Linked DNA regions of Homo sapiens. The protein of the gene in region 1 purifies or fractionates together with the protein of each later gene. This does not show direct contact. Each region holds a gene or a part of one and is shown in the gene's direction. Other genes may lie near its edges.

Region 1 (3,519 bases):
AGGATTAGACTACCCAAGGCATGATGAAAGGAGAGTAATAGCTCTCTAGCAACCTACTTGGAGTTGAGACCTATTCCTTTTCATCTGCCATTGCAAAGGCTTGATGAAGTGTGAGAATGGGGTTGGTAGGGAAGAGAGAGAATAGAGATAAATTTAGGAGGTCACATATGATATAGAGATGCTAGTTACTTTGTAGCATGGAGTAATGGAAGTAATGCTGGACTAGCAAGTCTAAGACATAGGTTCTAGTCCCAGCTGTAGCCTGTGAGCTGCAGGACCTGGGGAAGTTGCTGTGCTTCTCTGCAAAATTTGGAGAGGCAGCATAGGGTAGCAGCTAAAAAAGTGAGCTCTGGAACCAGACTGTTTGGGTTTCAGTTTTGGCTCAGTCATTTCCTGATGGTGTGACATTAGACAGGTTACTTTTCTTTCTCTGCCTTGATGGGATTGTAACTCTGGTGTAGTTGTGAGAAGTATAAAAGCTCTTAGAAATGGTACCTGGCCTTGGAAGTGCTGTGTAAATGTTAGCCATTATTACTGAAAGCAGTAAGTTATATCAGATTTATCTTAATAAGGATAAAAAAGATAGTAGGAGGAAGTGCTTTCAAAAGTGGAACATTGTAGACAAATGCAAAGTGTTTATGGTCTTGGTGTTACGGTAATTTGTTTCCTGGTGACTGAGCTAGTTTTTCAAGTATTCTATAATTCTGTCTGTCCATGTGTGGAAATAAATAGTGCAGTGAATACAAGCGTGGGTAGAGTCTGGGGCTAGACTGCCTGGGTTTGAGTCCCAGCTTCACCATTTACTTATTGTGCGAAGTTGGGCAAATAGTGTAACTTCTGTTTCTCAGTTTCCTCATATGTAAAAATGGGAATAATACTACTACCTGCATCTTGGACTGTTGGAGGATTCCATTAATATATATTTGTCAACAGCTTGGAGTCATGCCTGGCATGGCTTATTTGTGTTGGCATTACTGCTGTTTTTCTTGTGGTAGGTGTCTGCCTCCTTCCCCTACGGACATGCCCACACTTCTTCTCCACCCTTGGTCCTGCCTTATGTCTGATGGGCTGCTTTGCCCTAGATGTTGTGAACTAGAGAATTGTTAGCTCCTCAGTGGGTCACAGTTGGGGAAGATGCTGGTCTTGGACAGGGACTGGCTCCCTGCCGTTTGGGCCATATTGGTTGTGGGCTTGATCACTTTCCAGGACTCCCTGTAACCAAGTTCTTTTTTCTAGTCCCTCAGGGCCGGGAGACCGAGTGGCTCTTTGGCATGGATGAGGGCCGGAAACAGCTGGCGGCCAGTGCTGGCTTCAGGAGGTTGATTACAGTGGCCCTTCACCGAGGTCAGCAGTATGAAAGCATGGACCACATCCAAGCTGAGCTGTCGGCTAGAGTCATGGAGCTGGCCCCAGCTGGGATGCCCACCCAGCAGCAGGTAACAAAGCTTTCGTACGGCTTTCATGGGTCTCTGAAGTCATGTTAGCAGCCAGGGAGGCAGAGGGAGCCTTGGCAGGAGCTAGGACTAGAGTCTGTGACTCTTCATCTAATCCTGGAGGGGTATCAGCAGCTAAGGGTTAAATGGCAGGGAAACTGTCCTTTGCCCCAGGCAATGAGAGGAAAGTGAGCACAGTAGCGTCTGTGTCTGGGGGAGCCTCTCAGAGTCCATAGACATGGCAGGATGGAAATGCTCTACTCATTGCGGGCTTCAGTTCTTCCTAATTTGAGTTGCTCTGACTGTGGATTTCTCCTTCCACACTGGACTTTCTTGGTCATTTTGCTTCTTAGAACTATCATTATCTGAGGGTATAAATGGAAGAGGGCCAAAACAGCTCAGCACAGTTATCCAGGTATTCACATTGCTGGTCAGGTGTTTTACTGGGAAGGAAACCGAAGGTTTTTGCCTAAGTGGTGATATGGTATTATCAGTTAACACCAACTGTCTTGTGCTATCCTGGTCACCATGGGTAACGAACAAGTGATTTTACTAAAAGAACTTCATGATGAGGAGTTGATCCTTTTTTTTCTTTTTTGAGATAGGGTCTTGCTCTGTTGCCCAGGCTGGACTGGAGTTCAGTGGTGTGATCACGGCTCACTGCAGCCTCAGCCTCAACCTCCTGGGTTCAAACCATCCTCCCACCTCAGCCTTTGGTAGTAGCTGGGACTATAGGTGCAAGCCACCATACCTGGCTAGTTTTTTTTTTACATTTTTTGTAGAGACAGGGTCTCCCTATGTTGCCCAAGCTTTGATCCTTCTTGATAGGTGGGAAAGCAAAGGTATCTAGAGGCTTGGTGCAAATAGTAACAGATCTGAAAAAAAAGAACCCAGGCTCCTGGGTTCCTGGCCTGTGGTTTTGCCCACTAGGCTGACTCGTGTTTACAGATGAATGTAAGTTTGATTCTTCCTGGCCAACTTTGGGGTTGATGACCCCTATTTCAAGGAAGCCCAGATCCTCTGAGGAGCTTCATTTGTGGCCTCTCACCAGTGCCTGAGTCTGCAGGGTCAGGAGATATTGGTGATTATTAACTAGTCTTATAGGTCTTTAAAAAAAGAAATAAAGATAGGGGGAAGGAGTGGGAAAGTTTAGGGGGAAAGTATATTTTTCTCCTAAGGTTCAGAAAAGTGGGGGAAAAATAGATGAGAATAATCAGGGGAAAGGAATATCTCTCTAGATTTGGAGTGGTTGTTTCTCCCATGGATTTTGTTATCTTTATTCTTGTGTAGATTCCTTCTCATAATCACAGCCCCTTCCTGAGGGTTCCCTCTAGCTTTTGTTATCCTGGACTATTGAGAGTTCTTTTAGGGGTTACTGATGAGAAAAACCCCTAAAAGAACTTGGGGAGAATCAGCTGCATCTCACTAGTTGTTTGGGAGATCTTTATGTGTCCAGTTGATTTTCAAAAGATGAATTAAACCTTTGAGATCAGTTCAAAGGCTCCAGAAAAGTACTTTAATAGAATGGCAAATCTGTGGAGTAGTTGTTGTCTAGAACCGTGGTATGGGGATATATACACACAAAAGGGAAGGGGTTATAATTTCTCTTATTTCTTAAATGAGCTGCTGTTTTGACCACATCTCTGGTTGTACCTTCAGGTCCCCTTTCTGTCTGTGGGTGGGGACATTGGGGTCCGGACCGTTCAGCACCAAGACTGCAGCCCCTTGAGCGGTGACTATGTCATTGAGGATGTGCAAGGGGATGACAAGCGATACTTCCGTCGACTGATCTTCCTCAGCAACAGGAATGTGGTGCAGTCCGAAGCCAGGTTGCTGAAGGATGTGTCTCACAAAGGTGAGGTGTCATAGGCACAGTGGTGGGACCCAAGTGGCCGTGGCATGGACTAGATTTCTTGGGAGCTTGGCCGAGATGTAGGATGGACCTGGGTGTCTGTAGGTTCTTAACCATCTGGACTCTTAGGGTGTGAATAGCTATAAGCAGAGTACATTCTGTTCTTGAGCAGAGCCTGGCTCTGAAGTGATAGGGGACGTGAGTAGTGAAACCAAATACAGTGATAATCACATT
Region 2 (3,519 bases), on another chromosome or scaffold:
ACCTGAATAACCATCTAAGAAGGTATACCTTACTCACCCAGCAGATGTCTGTAGTGCCTGCCCTGCTCAAGACCCTGGGGCAGGAAAGAGCCTTGGTGCTCCATAATAGGCCTGTCCATTTCTCAAGAGTAGTGGTGTGAGTTGGCTGGGTTCTTCTCCTCTTAGGTTATGCAAGTCGTCCGAGAGCAAATCACTCGAGCTTTGCCCTCCAAACCCAACTCTTTGGATCAGTTCAAGAGCAAATTGCGTAGCCTGAGTTACTCTGAGATTCTACGACTGCGCCAGTCTGAGAGGATGAGTCAGGATGACTTCCAGTCCCCGCCAATTGTGTAAGTTCCATCTCAGGGGAGGCTGGCGGGGGAGGTGGCTGCCAGCTCTGCTTTCCTTCCAGAGCTCCACTGTCCCCATGACCTTCCGCTCACTCCAGTGTGTGTCCACCCCAGGGAGCTGAGGGAGAAGATCCAGCCCGAGATCCTTGAGCTGATCAAGCAGCAGCGCCTGAACCGGCTCTGTGAGGGCAGCAGCTTCCGAAAGATTGGGAACCGCCGAAGGCAAGGTGAGAGGAGACGGGGCAATCCTTGGTGCCGGGAAGAGCCTGCCTGGATGGCCCCTTTTGTGCCCAGGCCTTTCCCAGTACTGTCGTTGCTCACCTGTTTGGCTTCCCTTGTGTTCCAGAACGGTTCTGGTACTGCCGGTTGGCACTGAACCACAAGGTCCTTCACTATGGTGACTTGGATGACAACCCACAAGGGGAGGTGACATTTGAATCCCTGCAGGAGAAAAGTAGGTTCATTTCTCTGTTGATGTGTCATGGTTGCTGGACTTGTCAGGAGACAGGAGTTCTAGTCCAGCTGTTTGTAGCTGATCATCTGGGCTTGTACCTGTTACCTCTCTGGACCTGTTTCCTTATCTGTCAGCGATTTCCTCTACCTGGCCTACTCGGTGGGGTGGTTTGGAGAAACAATGAGTTCACAGGTGTGAATGTATTGTGTAGACTGTAAAGGGTGGTACATGACTAAGTCGAAAGGCAGTAGTTAAGAGGAGAAGCTGTGAAGCCAGACTGCCCACATTCAAATCCTGGCTTTGCTCCTAATTAACTTGAATTCTAATTAATTGCAAGTTCTCCCCTCTGCCTTGGTTTCTTCTCCTGTAAAGTGGGAATAATAGCCACACTTTCCTCCTAAGAGGATTGCATGAGTAATGTATGCAAAGCACTTAGAAGAGTGGTTGGCAGGTAGTCAGCATAACTGTTAGCAGCTGCCACTGCTGTTGGCGATGATGGCATCATCATCGCCATTATTGTGAAGGAGAGGGGAAGGGAGTCACCAAGGTCCCGTTCCTTGGGGATATAAATCCAAGAGCCCTGAAGTGACCCTCAGTTAGCTTTGACACAGCCTCACTGGGCTGTGGTCTACAGGAGTGACCAAGACGGAGGGAACAGTACAAGGCCATCCTCCCCACCACCCTCACTGAGCTCATACAGCAGCCCTTGGAGTTTGGGGCTGAGGCTTCCTATGCATCTGCCCCAGTACCTCCCTTCCAGCACTGATGTAGGCACTGACCAGCTTGCAGCATGAACTTCCAGAGACTAATTCCCATCATTTATCAGTTCCTGTTGCAGACATTAAGGCCATTGTCACTGGGAAAGATTGTCCCCACATGAAAGAGAAAAGTGCTCTGAAACAGAACAAGGTGAGTAGAGAGGCCAGTTTGAGTAGCTGGCCCAGTGATACTTGGAGAGTGCCATTGGTGGTGGTTTTTTCCAGGTGCATTCTTGGCATCTTCCCCTCTCTATTCCTGAATGTTTTATTAAGAATTTTGAACATACACAAAAATAGATGGAACCTCTGTATACACATCACCCAGACTCAGCAACCATGGCCAGTTCTGCCCATCCACTTGTTTCTCTCCTTTATCGCTTTGAAGAAAGTCCCAAGTATCACACTGTTTCATCTGTAAATATTTAGTGTACATCGTATAGTGTATAACATTGCCACCAGTCCATTAGCACACATAACAGGAAATGAAAGTAGTTATTTCAGATCAAATATTCCACTGATGGTGACTTTCTACCAATTGTCTTATAAATGTCATAATTTCTCTACAGATATATAAATGTTTATATGGATACACACACACACACACACACACACACACACACACACACACACACCCCCATACCCATCTTGTCTAAACCAGAGTCTAAGACTGGTCTTTTAAGTTTCTTAATTCATAAGTTCCCCCGCCCCCCCATCCCCCACCATCTTTTCCTTTGCAGTTTATTAGCTGAAGAACCAGATTGCTTGTTTGGTAGTTTCCTAGCATCTGAATTTTGCTGATTGTTTCCCCGTGGTACAGTTTAACTTGTTCCTCTGTCCCAGATCTGTACATTGGAAGAGGGATCTAGAGGTTTGATCCAGTTCAGGTTTAACTTTTTTCCTGGCCAGTGTCATCAGTGGTATTATGTTCTATCAAGAGGCACATAACGTCTGGTGGTCTCTCCTTTTGTGATAATTAGCAGACTGTTGAAGCTCAGTGCCTCATTCCATCAGTCAACTAAGGTTTGCAAACTCATGATATTTTGATGCAGTCATTGCTTTTCATTTATGAGCTGAACCATGAAACTTGCCCTTATCTACTATTGGTTTCCCAGTGGTACAGTTTATATAGGAAACGAGAATAAATGCTGATTCTTCTTTTATGTACTTACTTTCAAAATAATGAGTTAGTTCCTTGGTATCATGCAACAGTGACCAATTTTGTGTGTGTGTGTGTTTTGTTTTGTTTTTTAATTGTTAAGACATTCCTATGCCAAATACAGCACGATAGAAGTTGTTAGTCATCTTGGTAATATAAAAACTTTTAGGATAACTTACAGTCATGGATCGTGACCTTCCAGGGTTCTGAGTGTTGAAAATGACTTTTTTCCAATCTTAAAAATATCACAACATCTTTGATGTGACTTGGGCAGGGAGTGGGTAAGTTAAGGTTGATTTATGCTGGGCCTCATCTCCAGCCACACTTGTGGCCGCCTAGGAGCATTGATGACATTCATCTGAATCAGCATGTTTGGTGATGATGCCGAGTCACTAGGACTTTGGCCAAGATCTTGATGTGCAGACCCCAGGCTGTTCCATCGCTCTAATTTAAACCCTTTCTCCTTCAGGAGGTGTTGGAATTGGCCTTCTCCATCCTGTATGACCCTGATGAGACCTTAAACTTCATCGCACCTAATAAATATGAGGTGAGCAGTGTGGCGCTGCCTTAGACAACAGAGCTATTTCTGTAACTCTTCAGTTGGTGGCAGGAATGAGCAAAACAGGAAAGTCCCCTGTGGTGGGTGGCTGCAGTGTATATTGAAGCCTAGGAAGGCTTTGAGAAGAAGGTGGCATTTCAATAGGATGGGAATGTCTCAAAGGAGGAGCTGTGGTTGGGGGGGCACCCAGATGAAGCAGCAGGTATCATTACATAATGCTGGACCTGAGGTTCCTCCAGGCGCATTGGGTGGCTGCCAAGGAT
Region 3 (3,519 bases), about 140 Mb from region 1:
TTTGGGACATTGAGTCGGGCAGATTGCTTGAGCTCAGGAGTTCGTGACCAGCCTGGGCAACATGGTGAAACCCCGTCTCTACAAAAAACGAAAAACAACAACAGCAAAAGCCAAAAATTAGCCGTGCCTGTAGTCCCAGCTACTCAGAAGGCTGAGGTGGGAGGATCACTTGAGTCCAGGAGATTGAGGCTGCAGTGAGCTGGGATAGCACCATTGCACTCCAGCCTGGATGATAGAGCAACACTCTGTCTCAAAAAAAAAAAAAAAAAAAAGAATAGAACAACGAATATTCATGTATCCACCATCTATATTGAATAGTTAATTTCATTTATATATATATATATATATATATATATATATATATATATATATATATTTATTTATTTATTGAGACGGAGTCCGGCTCTGTCACCCAGGTTGCAGTACAGTGTTGCGATCTTGGCTCACGGCAGCCTCCACCTCCTGAGTTCAAGTGATTCTCTTGCCTCAGCGTCCTGAGTAGCTGGTATTATAGATGTGTGCCACTGTGCCTGCCAAATTTTTGTATTTTTAGTAGAGACGGGGTTTCACCATGTAGGCCAGGCTGGTCTCGAACTCCTGACCTCAAGTGATCTGCCAGCCTCAGCCTTCCAAAGTGCTGGGATTACAGGCGGGAGCCACTGCTCCTGGCAGACACTGACTATATATTTAACTATATATTTTTGGCTGAATCATTGTAAATTGCAATAAACCATGATGCTTTACCCCTAAATACTTCAGCTTGTACCCTTCCCAAAAAAAGGACATTTTCTTGCATAATCACTTATCCCACCTAACAAAATAAGGGCTAATTCCCTACGATCATCTGAAACCCAGTCTAGTAGAGGTTTACAAAGTGCAGATGCCAAAGACTAACTCAGAAGGTCTGAGGGTGGAAATTAGAATGTTGTCTTTTTCAGAAGCTTCACAGGGTTGGAGCACAGGCAGAATGAGAAACTGCTTTAGATTAGGAGTTCTTTTAGGAGAGAGTTGATGTCTCATACCTGCTTTAGCCACCTTAGTGCTTAGTACAGGTTGAGTATCCCTTATCTGAAATGCTTGAGACTAGAAGTATTTCAGATTTCAGATTTTTTCAGATTTTGGAATATTTGCAGAATGCATAATGGTCGAGCATCCCTAATCCGAAAATTCAAAATGTTCCAATGAGCGTTTCCTTTGAGCATCATGTTAGCACTCAGAAAGTTTCAGATTTTGGAGCCTTTTGGATTTTGGGTGCTCAACCTGCATAAGGAACATAATAGGAACTTGATACCTTTCAGTCTCCCTCCTCCCCCAAATTATTACAACATCTTCATAGTGCTAGGCTTCCATTTGTTTTTGTTTTTGTTTTTGTTTTTGTTTTTTCCTGGAGACAGGGTCTCACTTTGTTGCCCAGGCTGGAGTGCAGTGGCACAATCTCAACCTCCCAGGCTCAAGTGATTCTCCCACGTTAGCTTCCTAAATAGCTTGGACTACAGGCGACCACCACCATGTCTGGGTAATTAAAAAATTTTTTTTTTGTAGAGACAGGGTCTTGCTATGTTGCTCAGGCTGGTCTCGAAGTCCTGGGCTTAAGTAATCCTCTCACCTCAGCCTCCCAAAGTGGTGGGATGACAGGCGTGAGCCTCTGTGCCTGGCATGTTTGGTCTCAACTTTGTGATTAAAACCTGAAATGTTTCCTAGTTGTACCTTTACCTTTTGGTGCTTGAATTTTGTTAAAGATCAGTATTTCTGGGCATTTAAAGAGATTTGTTAATTTTTTAAATGCTTTTGCTAAGAGTCTCTTTTTGCCGTAGGACCTTAGAGCTTTTGGTTGTAACGAGACAGGGCAGGCTGGAAGTTAGTAAATGTTTCCCTTATTGACAACCCCAACTTTTCTCTTATTGTAGTTATCCATCTTGGTGCATCCTGACAAAAATCAAGATGATGCTGACAGAGCACAAAAGGCTTTTGAAGGTATTTGTAAATTTACCTGCTTCTGAGTATTAGATTGTGAATGGCAGGGCCTAACTGTTCCTTGTCCTAGATCAAGCAAAGACTGTTATAGTTTTGTCTTCTGGTCACCAAGAAGCTGTGGTTTTCAGTAGAGCAGTTGCCATTTCAAAGCAGAATGTTGTTGTTTAAGAAGTAGACCTTAACTTTGCTTTGTTAAAACTTTTATATGCCAACAAAGACTGTTATTGCATAGGATCATTTTTTTTCTTTGAACATAAAGAATTTTATCACTGAATTAAATCCAGATGTAGTGTATTTAGCCTTGAGTATATATTTAATTTTTTCCAAGGCTCTTAAGGAAAGTCATTGCTATAGTTGAATGTTTTTTTTAACTTAGTTTAACGACAGTAAATAATTAAAGTAGGGAATGCTTTAGAGAGCACAAGTCCATTTACACTGCCTGAGTATAGTTCAGACTTTCAGAGGGTGTTTGCAGAAACAGTTAATTTCAATGTTTTGCATTAGCTGTGGACAAAGCTTACAAGTTGCTACTGGATCAGGAGCAAAAGAAGAGGGCCCTGGATGTAATTCAGGCAGGAAAAGAATACGTGGAACACACTGTAAGTATTTATAGTGCTGCTGTGTTTACAGGAAGTATCAGCAAGCCTTGGGCACCTTGTAGAAGGGTACATATGAACATAGTAATGCCTACTGGCACAACCTGTGGCTACTTCTGTGCTCTCTACCACTTTGCTGTGGTGGTCATGAATAGTGTGTGCCTGAAGCTGTAATTCACCCCTAAGAGAAGAACTCAGATGAGGAGTAGCTGGTACACTGCTCCTACCTCTTTCCCTACCAGTCCTGTGTTGGGGAGAAAGGGTTGTTCTCTCCCTCTCATCACATATTGCCACTTACCCCATTCTTAGAGTGGAAACGTGGAGCAGCCTGTGACTCTTGACTCTTGATTTTTATTCTTGTCCCTGTGAAGGGTTTGCAACAAGGCTTGGCAAAGGCTAGCAAGAGGATAGGCGTAAACTTTTTTTAAAATAGGAGGAGGTTTATGTCCATCTTAATAACAGAGTTGGGAAGAACTCAGTTGAAGGAAACTGAGTTGTAGCTGGTGTTATTTTTGTTTGCTCTTGAGGGCATACATAAGTCTCCAATGTGGTGGGAAATGTCAGTATGGCTTTCCCAAGGTAAGAAAGGTCTTTTAACTTTTTACTTGCTGGGGCAAGAATCTTGAGGTCATTTGTAAGAGCTGCTTCAATTGTGATTGGATGACTTTTCACATGAAGAGCTTTGAAATCTGAGACAACTTTATAACCATAATAATGAATCCAGTTTCGGTGAGGAAAATGGATAAGAAGAGGAGACAAAGGGCCCATAACTATATCCTGCGGGTCATGTGTTGGAAATGGCACTTGTAGGCCCTATCCTGGTAGAAATAGGGAAAGTGCCTGACAGTTTCTCCTTAAATCATTGTGGCTTCGTATGTCTTTCACCTGTAAGAAAGTCATCCTTAGGCTTCCTGACCACAGGGTGGCAGTAGGGCCTTTCTGAGCTTAG
Region 4 (3,519 bases), on another chromosome or scaffold:
TGAATACTTCAGTAGGGTTGGGCGTTCTTAATATTCAACCTATGATACCTTTTCAAAGTGTGGAATTGTGGGGAGGCTTATACATTGGGTCTCTTTTAGTAAGAAATACTTCCTGGCCAGGCACGGTGTGCTGACACCTGTAATCCCAGCACTTTGGGAGCTGAGGTGGGCAGATCACTTTAGGCCAGGAATTTGAGACCAGCCTGGCCAACACAGTGAAACCCATCTCTACTAAAAATACAAAAAGTTAGCTGGGCGTGGTGGTGCGCACCTATAGTCCCAGCTACTTGGGAGGCTGAGGCAGGAGAATTGCTTGAACCCGTGGGTGGAGGTTGCAGTGAGCCAAGATCGGGCCACTGCACTCCAGCCTGGGCAACAGACGGAGACTCTGTCTCAAAAAAAAAGATAGAAATACTTTCTAGCAGGTTTTTTCTTATCCTCACTCTGATGAAATAATAGCTAGCCGTTGGTCAATGGTAGCTGCATTATCTCAATCTTCACAATCCTATGAGAACACATAGGTCCCGTTATCATTGCATCTTGATGTACAAATGGAGAAACACTTGGAGGTTTAAAAACATGCGTAAGTTCAGCCAGGCATGGTGGCTGACGCCTGTAATCCTAGCACTTTGGGAGGCCGAGGCGGGCAGATCACTTGAGGTCAGGGGTTCAAGACCGGCCTGGCCAACGTGGTGAAACACCATCTCTACTAAAAATACAAAAATTAGCTGGGCGTGGTAATGGGTGCCTGTAATCCCAGCTACTCGGGAGGCTAAGGCAAGAGAATTGCTTGAACCCGGGAGGCAGAGGTTGCAGTGAGCTGAGAGCACACCACTGCACTCCAGCCTGGGAGACAGAGTGAGACTCCGTCTCTAAATAAATAAATAAATAAAGCCTAAGTTCATACAGCAGAGTTGGGATTTGATTCTAGGACCACAGCTCTCAACCCGTATCGTGTTTCCTCCTCCTGTTAGCATGAAGGTATATGGTAAAAGATGGGAGCTTCCCGGCCGTGAGCGGCGGCTCACGCCTGTAATCCCAGCACTTTGGGAGGCCAAGGCGGGTGGATCACGAGGTCAGGAGTTCAAGACCAGCCTGGCCAACATGGAGAAACCCCATCTCTACTAAAAATACAAAAATTAGCCAGGTGTGATGGCACATAGCTGTAAACCCAGCTATTCAGGAGGCTGAGACAGGAGAATTGCTTGAACCCGGGAGGCAGAGGTTGCAGTGAGCCGAGATCACACCACTGCACTTCAGCCTAGGTGACAGAGCAAGACTCCTTCTCAAAAAAAAAAAAAAGGCGGAGCTTCCCACAGCCAGGTGCCTATTTTCCATCTAAATCAGGACTCTGAGACATTGTCTTAATATGGGGAATGGGATTGTGGTTGTTGTCCTGGGCAAACTTCCAGGATTTTTACTTGCTATGAACTAATGTGTTTTTTTTTTAACTGGTGGGGGTAATCCAAATGTAACCACTGTACTTTAAGGAGTCATTTGGGTCTCCAAGTATTACATGAATGTACTTTTTCCTTGCAGGTCAGACACATTCTATGTGAAAAACATGGCAAAATCATGGAAGCCATGGAAAAGTTAAAGTCTGGGATGAGATTCAATGAAGTGGCCGCACAGTATAGTGAAGATAAAGCCAGGCAAGGGGTATGTTGCTCTTATTATTTATAATTTTCTCTCAAGGTAAGAAAGCAAAGTAAAAATGACAAATAATAAAATAAGATAAAAATTCTCCATCCTCCACAGAAGAAACACAGAAGTAGGGATCATTCCTTTGTTCAACCATTGGTTGTAGCGATATTTTGGTTTAAAGATCTCAAAAGCAGAAATGTCCAACTTGTAAATAGTAGAATAAGGGTCATCTATGTCAAAACCTATGCATGACCAAACTTGCACGGCTAACTTCAAAGTCCAGCAGTGTTGAGAGTACTTATGTGTTCAGTCTAGTTAGACTTCTTCTACCTATTTGTCCTTATTGAGCCTATTCCTGTATTGCTCTTAGGAATATACCTCGTAACCTTAGCAAAATGTTGGGAAATTCTCTCAAGCTACAGTAGAACTGTTCCCTCTTCTGGGCCACTTGATATCACTTATCTTTTGGGTTTTTCAGGGTGACTTGGGTTGGATGACCAGAGGGTCCATGGTGGGACCATTTCAAGAAGCAGCATTTGCCTTGCCTGTAAGTGGGATGGATAAGCCTGTGTTTACAGACCCACCGGTTAAGACAAAATTTGGATATCATATTATTATGGTCGAAGGAAGAAAATAAAATCATATGAAAGACTGAATAAGTTTTATACATTTTGTTTCTTTAAAAGGTATTACATATTCTTTTGAGCTGGAGCTGCAAGGAAATACAAAAATTTTTAAAAAGAAAAGATATTGGATGCTCCTTGTATTCTGTGAAAGCTCTAAGTATGGGTTTGTAGGTGTAAGAGAGGGTGGGGCTAAGTGAATGTCAACTGTAGTAGGTATTCAGTCAGTCTTTCTCAAAGAGAAGTCAAGCAGACTCCCTTTAACCTGTATTCTCTTTCCTCCCAGAACTATATCTGACTCTCAGTCTGTCCCATAAATTAATTCAGAAACCATCTTCAGGGGAAGCAGATATCAACTCACACTATTCACACAACTGAAAATATTGGGCATCAAATAGATTAGTGTGTGAGAATCATAAAATAAGTTCCTAGACAACATTTGTTTTACATGTTAGTCAACTCTGATCTTCCAGGACAGGTGGTATTAGCTCCACTGTCTTAACATAGTACGTGGCACGTTATGCCTTTCAGTGTTAACTCCTTTCTTTTTAAATAAATGTTTATTGGAGGAAAAAAGCACTCAGTTGTTCCATGAGTTGTTTTGTACTAGACTAACCGAGTGCTGGTTAAAGGGAGGGATGTCAGCATAAAAATGTCATTCCCTCATCTTCAGTGTATGGGTTACATTAAGACTGTCCTTTCCAGGGCCAATGTTCTGTGCATCTAAATTTTTAAAATTTAAAATGCCATATTTATGACATATAAAAAAGTATAAAGATTACTAATATAAATACTATACTGCTTCAAAAATAAAACTTTGCCAACACAGCTATGTGATTCTTAACAGATTATTTTAACACACTGCCTTCTCTCCCTCAGCTGCATTTGATATTATACCCACTTATATAATGGGAACTTTACCTAGATACCTGACTTTCCCACTTGAGAAGAGTTTCTGAGCACCTCAGTAGGTTATGCCTCCATGAGATTTTCCCCACGGAGCAGATATGCCAGTGTATACAGAGAAGTTCAAATAGATATAAGATGAAACTATGGCTGGGCCCAGTGGTGTGCGCCTGTAGTCTTAGCTACTTGGGAGGCTGAGGCAGGAGGATCACTTGAGCCCAGGAGTTCTGGGCTGTAGTGTCCTATGCCAATCGGGTGTCAGCACTAAGTTCAGCATCAATACAGTGACCTCATCTGGGCACAGTGGCTCAGGCCTATCATCCCAGCATTTTAGGAGGCCAAGGTG
Region 5 (3,519 bases), on another chromosome or scaffold:
ATAGCATTTTATTCTTTACTGTAGTTAGGATTCATGTTTTAAAAGAATGAAAATATCCACATGACAGAAACCTAAAACTAACTGGGGGAATAAAGGGTATAGAGAGTTTAGAAAGGGATGTTTAAATTGTGTCCTCCTTAACATTAACAAATGTGTTCCCTTTAAAACTCTAGGTAATAAAGACATCACATGGGTAATGTTAGAAGCTGGTGCTGAGACAGATGTTGTCAACTCTGTGGGAAGAACAGCAGCTCAGATGGCAGCCTTTGTGGGTGAGATTTTGCTGCAGTTTTGCATTAGATTATACCCAAAATTTCCCTTGTGGAAAAAAAACCCACTTTGCTTCTCATGGTGAAAATATTATCATGTTGCTTTAAAAAAACTTAAGTATTTACAGTCCACTGTAACTTAATGAAACACCTAGTGACTCTGGAGAAAACAAATGGCTATTTCGAATTTCCACTTTTTCAAATACAAAGAGTAGTGGGGCCATTGTAATTGCTCACAAATGCTTATAACATGTATATTTTATGTCTCTGATGGAAGTAGCTAACCCTAATGTTTAAGAATGCTAACCGAGAAGTCAGTAATCCCAAGTTAAATTTTGGCTGTGCCACGTGATAGCAAAGTACTTAATAATTCTGACCTTCAGTTTCCTCATGGTAAAATGTTACAGGGTTATTGTGAGGATTAAAAGAGGTGATAGACTTGAACTTTCCATGTAACACTAAATAAATGGTATTAGTTACTGTTGTTAATAATTATTACAACAATGACATAACTCTTAGGAAAGAGTACTTGATAATAATATACAACTACTTCGTTATCATTCTCATCAACCACAGACGTTTATTTTGTGTGCCCAATAATTCTTGGCATGTTAATCCTATTGCTTGACATAATGTAAGGAAAGAGTGGGAGTGAATTCTTGTTCTTTGGTATTTTGACACCATTGAATTGGTGGTGAAGAGAGTCCACTGAGAGAAAAGCAAAGAGCAACGTCTGATTTATTGGGAGTGCAGTAAGTGGCCGTATAGGGACTAATAATTCATTAAACAAATAATGTTCACAACCTATAAAGCAAGCATCACTGTAGGTGTCTTGGTTATAGTGACAAGACAGGCTGTTCATACTTTCTTGGCACTTAAAGGGTAATAGCAATGACAAATGGTGCGAAAACACATACTCCAAGGTAGAACTTCAGAGCTCCATAAAAATACATAGAAGAGGAGGATCTGTCCAATTCAAGGGGGTTTTGAGAGAAGTCAGGTTCAGATACAGTGTAAATTAGGTGTGGAGGATAGTAACTGAATATTATGTTAAATTTTATTAGAACATTTTCTTGAAACTACTAATAGAAGCTGCCATTGATTAAGCCAGACACTCAGTTGCTTTATGACAGCTTTTTCTGTTAGAAGAAGTATCCTTATTTTCATTTCAAAAGGACTTGAGAAAGGTATGGCCTTGTGTAAGCTTCGGAGAAATATTTTAACTCCCGTGTGTACAGGCCCCAAGTTGCCCCATCTCAGTTCTGAGCTAATTTTGAGGGTGTCACTGCAGGGGGAAAGAACACTAAAGTAGGAATCTGGAGACTTGAACTTTAGTTCATGTGTGCTGATAATTAGTTATAGGATCACGGGCAAATTCCTTTACCTCCATAGGCCTCAGTTTTCTGATCTGTATGCAAAGAAGCAGGGGAATTAGGTGATCTCTGAACTTCTATTTAACTGTACAAGTTTTCATTATATCCACAATGTAACAAAATATTGCTCAGATACAGGTAAAAAAATTTCCCAAGATCACAGGTCTGGAAATGGAGGAGTCTCTTCTTTCAGGCATTAACACAATGCTCCTTTCTTTTTCTTAACACTACAATACTAACAAAATTTTTACTACAGTAAAAATTGTTTGCAATCCTATCCTAAAATAAGAGTAATGTTTTCATTCCATTTTAATATATTTAACTGATTTCACAGACAGAAAATTACATTGCACCCTTCCAGTTGTTACTGTATTTTCCAAATAATTAGCCTTTAAAAAAGCTCATTCTCCCCTTTTTGTTTCCTTCAAGTGGATCAGTATGTATACATGCGTACATACATACATAAGATTTTTGTCATTTTTTAAAAATGCCACCCATCACACAGCAGATATTCCTTGTAGCTTGTTTTCTTCACTTACTAATACATCATGGAAGTTCCTCCCATCTCAGTAGGTGTAATTCATTTCCTTCAACAGCTATATGATACTCCATGATATAGATGTTCCACAGTTCAGTTAGCTCTCCCTTATTGACAGATTTTACAGTTTTTTAACCACTTTTCTACAAATAATGTAATAATCATCCTTGATTTTCTATGTTTTACAAGTTAGTACTTGAATATTTTTTACATGTTAGAACTTTAATATCTCTAAAGTATTTCTTAGAAGTAAAATTGCTGAGACAAAGGATATAGAGTTTTTATTTTTATTTATTTATTTATTTATTTATTTATTTATTTATTCATTTATTTTTGAGATGGAGTCTCGCCCTGTCGCCCAGGCTGGAGTGCAGTGGCCCAACCTCAGCTCATTGCAACCTCCGCCTCCCGGGTTCAAGTGATTCTCCTGCCTCAGCCTCCCAACTAGCTGGGATTATAGGTGTGCGCCACCACGCCTAGCTAATTTTTTTTGTATTTTTAGTAGAGATGGGGTTTCACCATGTTGGTCAGGCTGGTCTTGAACTCCTGACCTTGTGATCTGCCCGCCTCGGCCTCCCAAAGTGCTGGGATTACAGCCACCACGACCAGCCTAGAGTTTTAATTTTAATGTAAGTCTAGATTCCTTTCCAAAAGGGCATAGTAATTCACAGTAATATCCTCATCAGAGCTGAGTATTACCATTCTTTGATTTTTGCCACTCTGATAGTTAAAAAGATGGTACATTGTGAACTTACTTTCCCCTCATTATTTATGAAATTAAGCACTTCTGTTGTTGGTAATTTGTATTTTCACTTTTGTGGATTACCCACTTATACTCTTTATTCATTTTTTTGTGGGGGGATGCCCTTTGTTATTGCTTTGAGGAGCTTTATGCATACAAATCCATTATCTAACAAATGTGTTTCAAATATTTTATGCCAGTCCTCCTCTTCCTCCTCCTCCTCCTTCTTCTTCTTCTTTTTATTCCTCTTCTTCCTCCTCCTCTTCCTCTTCTTCTTCTTCCTTCTTTCTTCTTCTTCTTTTTTAACTTTATGGAGACCTTTACCATAGGAAATTTATTTATTTATTTATTTATTTATTTTTTTGAGATGGAGTCTCACTCTGTCACCCAGGCTGGAGTGCAGTGGCATAATCTCGGCTCACTGCAACCTCCACCTCCTGGGTTCAAACGATTCTCCTGCCTCAGCCTCCCATGTAGCTGGGACTACAGGTATGTGCCACCACACCCAGCTAATTGTTGTATTTTTAGTAGAGATGGGGCTTAGCCATGTTGGCCAGGCTGGTCTCGAACTCTTGACCTTAGGTGATCGTCCCACCT

What was found.
Region 2: the proteins of METTL13 (region 1) and ELMO2 fractionate together in Homo sapiens (co-fractionation; one large-scale study listed by BioGRID). This does not show direct contact.
Region 3: the proteins of METTL13 (region 1) and DNAJC8 fractionate together in Homo sapiens (co-fractionation; one large-scale study listed by BioGRID). This does not show direct contact.
Region 4: the proteins of METTL13 (region 1) and PIN4 fractionate together in Homo sapiens (co-fractionation; one large-scale study listed by BioGRID). This does not show direct contact.
Region 5: the proteins of METTL13 (region 1) and ANKMY2 fractionate together in Homo sapiens (co-fractionation; one large-scale study listed by BioGRID). This does not show direct contact.

What each region holds. Positions count from the first base shown.
Region 1 is NC_000001.11:171,784,643-171,788,161, forward strand, and holds part of METTL13 (eEF1A lysine and N-terminal methyltransferase), read left to right. Parts: intron 1-1,236; coding exon 1,237-1,436; intron 1,437-3,092; coding exon 3,093-3,288; intron 3,289-3,519. UniProt on the Homo sapiens protein: Dual methyltransferase that catalyzes methylation of elongation factor 1-alpha (EEF1A1 and EEF1A2) at two different positions, and is therefore involved in the regulation of mRNA translation.
Region 2 is NC_000020.11:46,368,616-46,372,134, reverse strand, and holds part of ELMO2 (engulfment and cell motility protein 2), read left to right. Parts: intron 1-165; coding exon 166-329; intron 330-443; coding exon 444-556; intron 557-675; coding exon 676-783; intron 784-1,609; coding exon 1,610-1,692; intron 1,693-3,166; coding exon 3,167-3,244; intron 3,245-3,519. UniProt on the Homo sapiens protein: Involved in cytoskeletal rearrangements required for phagocytosis of apoptotic cells and cell motility. Acts in association with DOCK1 and CRK. Was initially proposed to be required in complex with DOCK1 to activate Rac Rho small GTPases.
Region 3 is NC_000001.11:28,209,026-28,212,544, reverse strand, and holds part of DNAJC8 (dnaJ homolog subfamily C member 8), read left to right. Parts: intron 1-1,907; coding exon 1,908-1,974; intron 1,975-2,478; coding exon 2,479-2,573; intron 2,574-3,519. UniProt on the Homo sapiens protein: Suppresses polyglutamine (polyQ) aggregation of ATXN3 in neuronal cells.
Region 4 is NC_000023.11:72,195,246-72,198,764, forward strand, and holds the end of PIN4 (peptidyl-prolyl cis-trans isomerase NIMA-interacting 4), read left to right. Parts: intron 1-1,539; coding exon 1,540-1,659; intron 1,660-2,122; coding exon 2,123-2,281; 3' UTR 2,282-3,095; downstream 3,096-3,519.
Region 5 is NC_000007.14:16,621,736-16,625,254, reverse strand, and holds part of ANKMY2 (ankyrin repeat and MYND domain-containing protein 2), read left to right. Parts: intron 1-173; coding exon 174-272; intron 273-3,519. UniProt on the Homo sapiens protein: May be involved in the trafficking of signaling proteins to the cilia.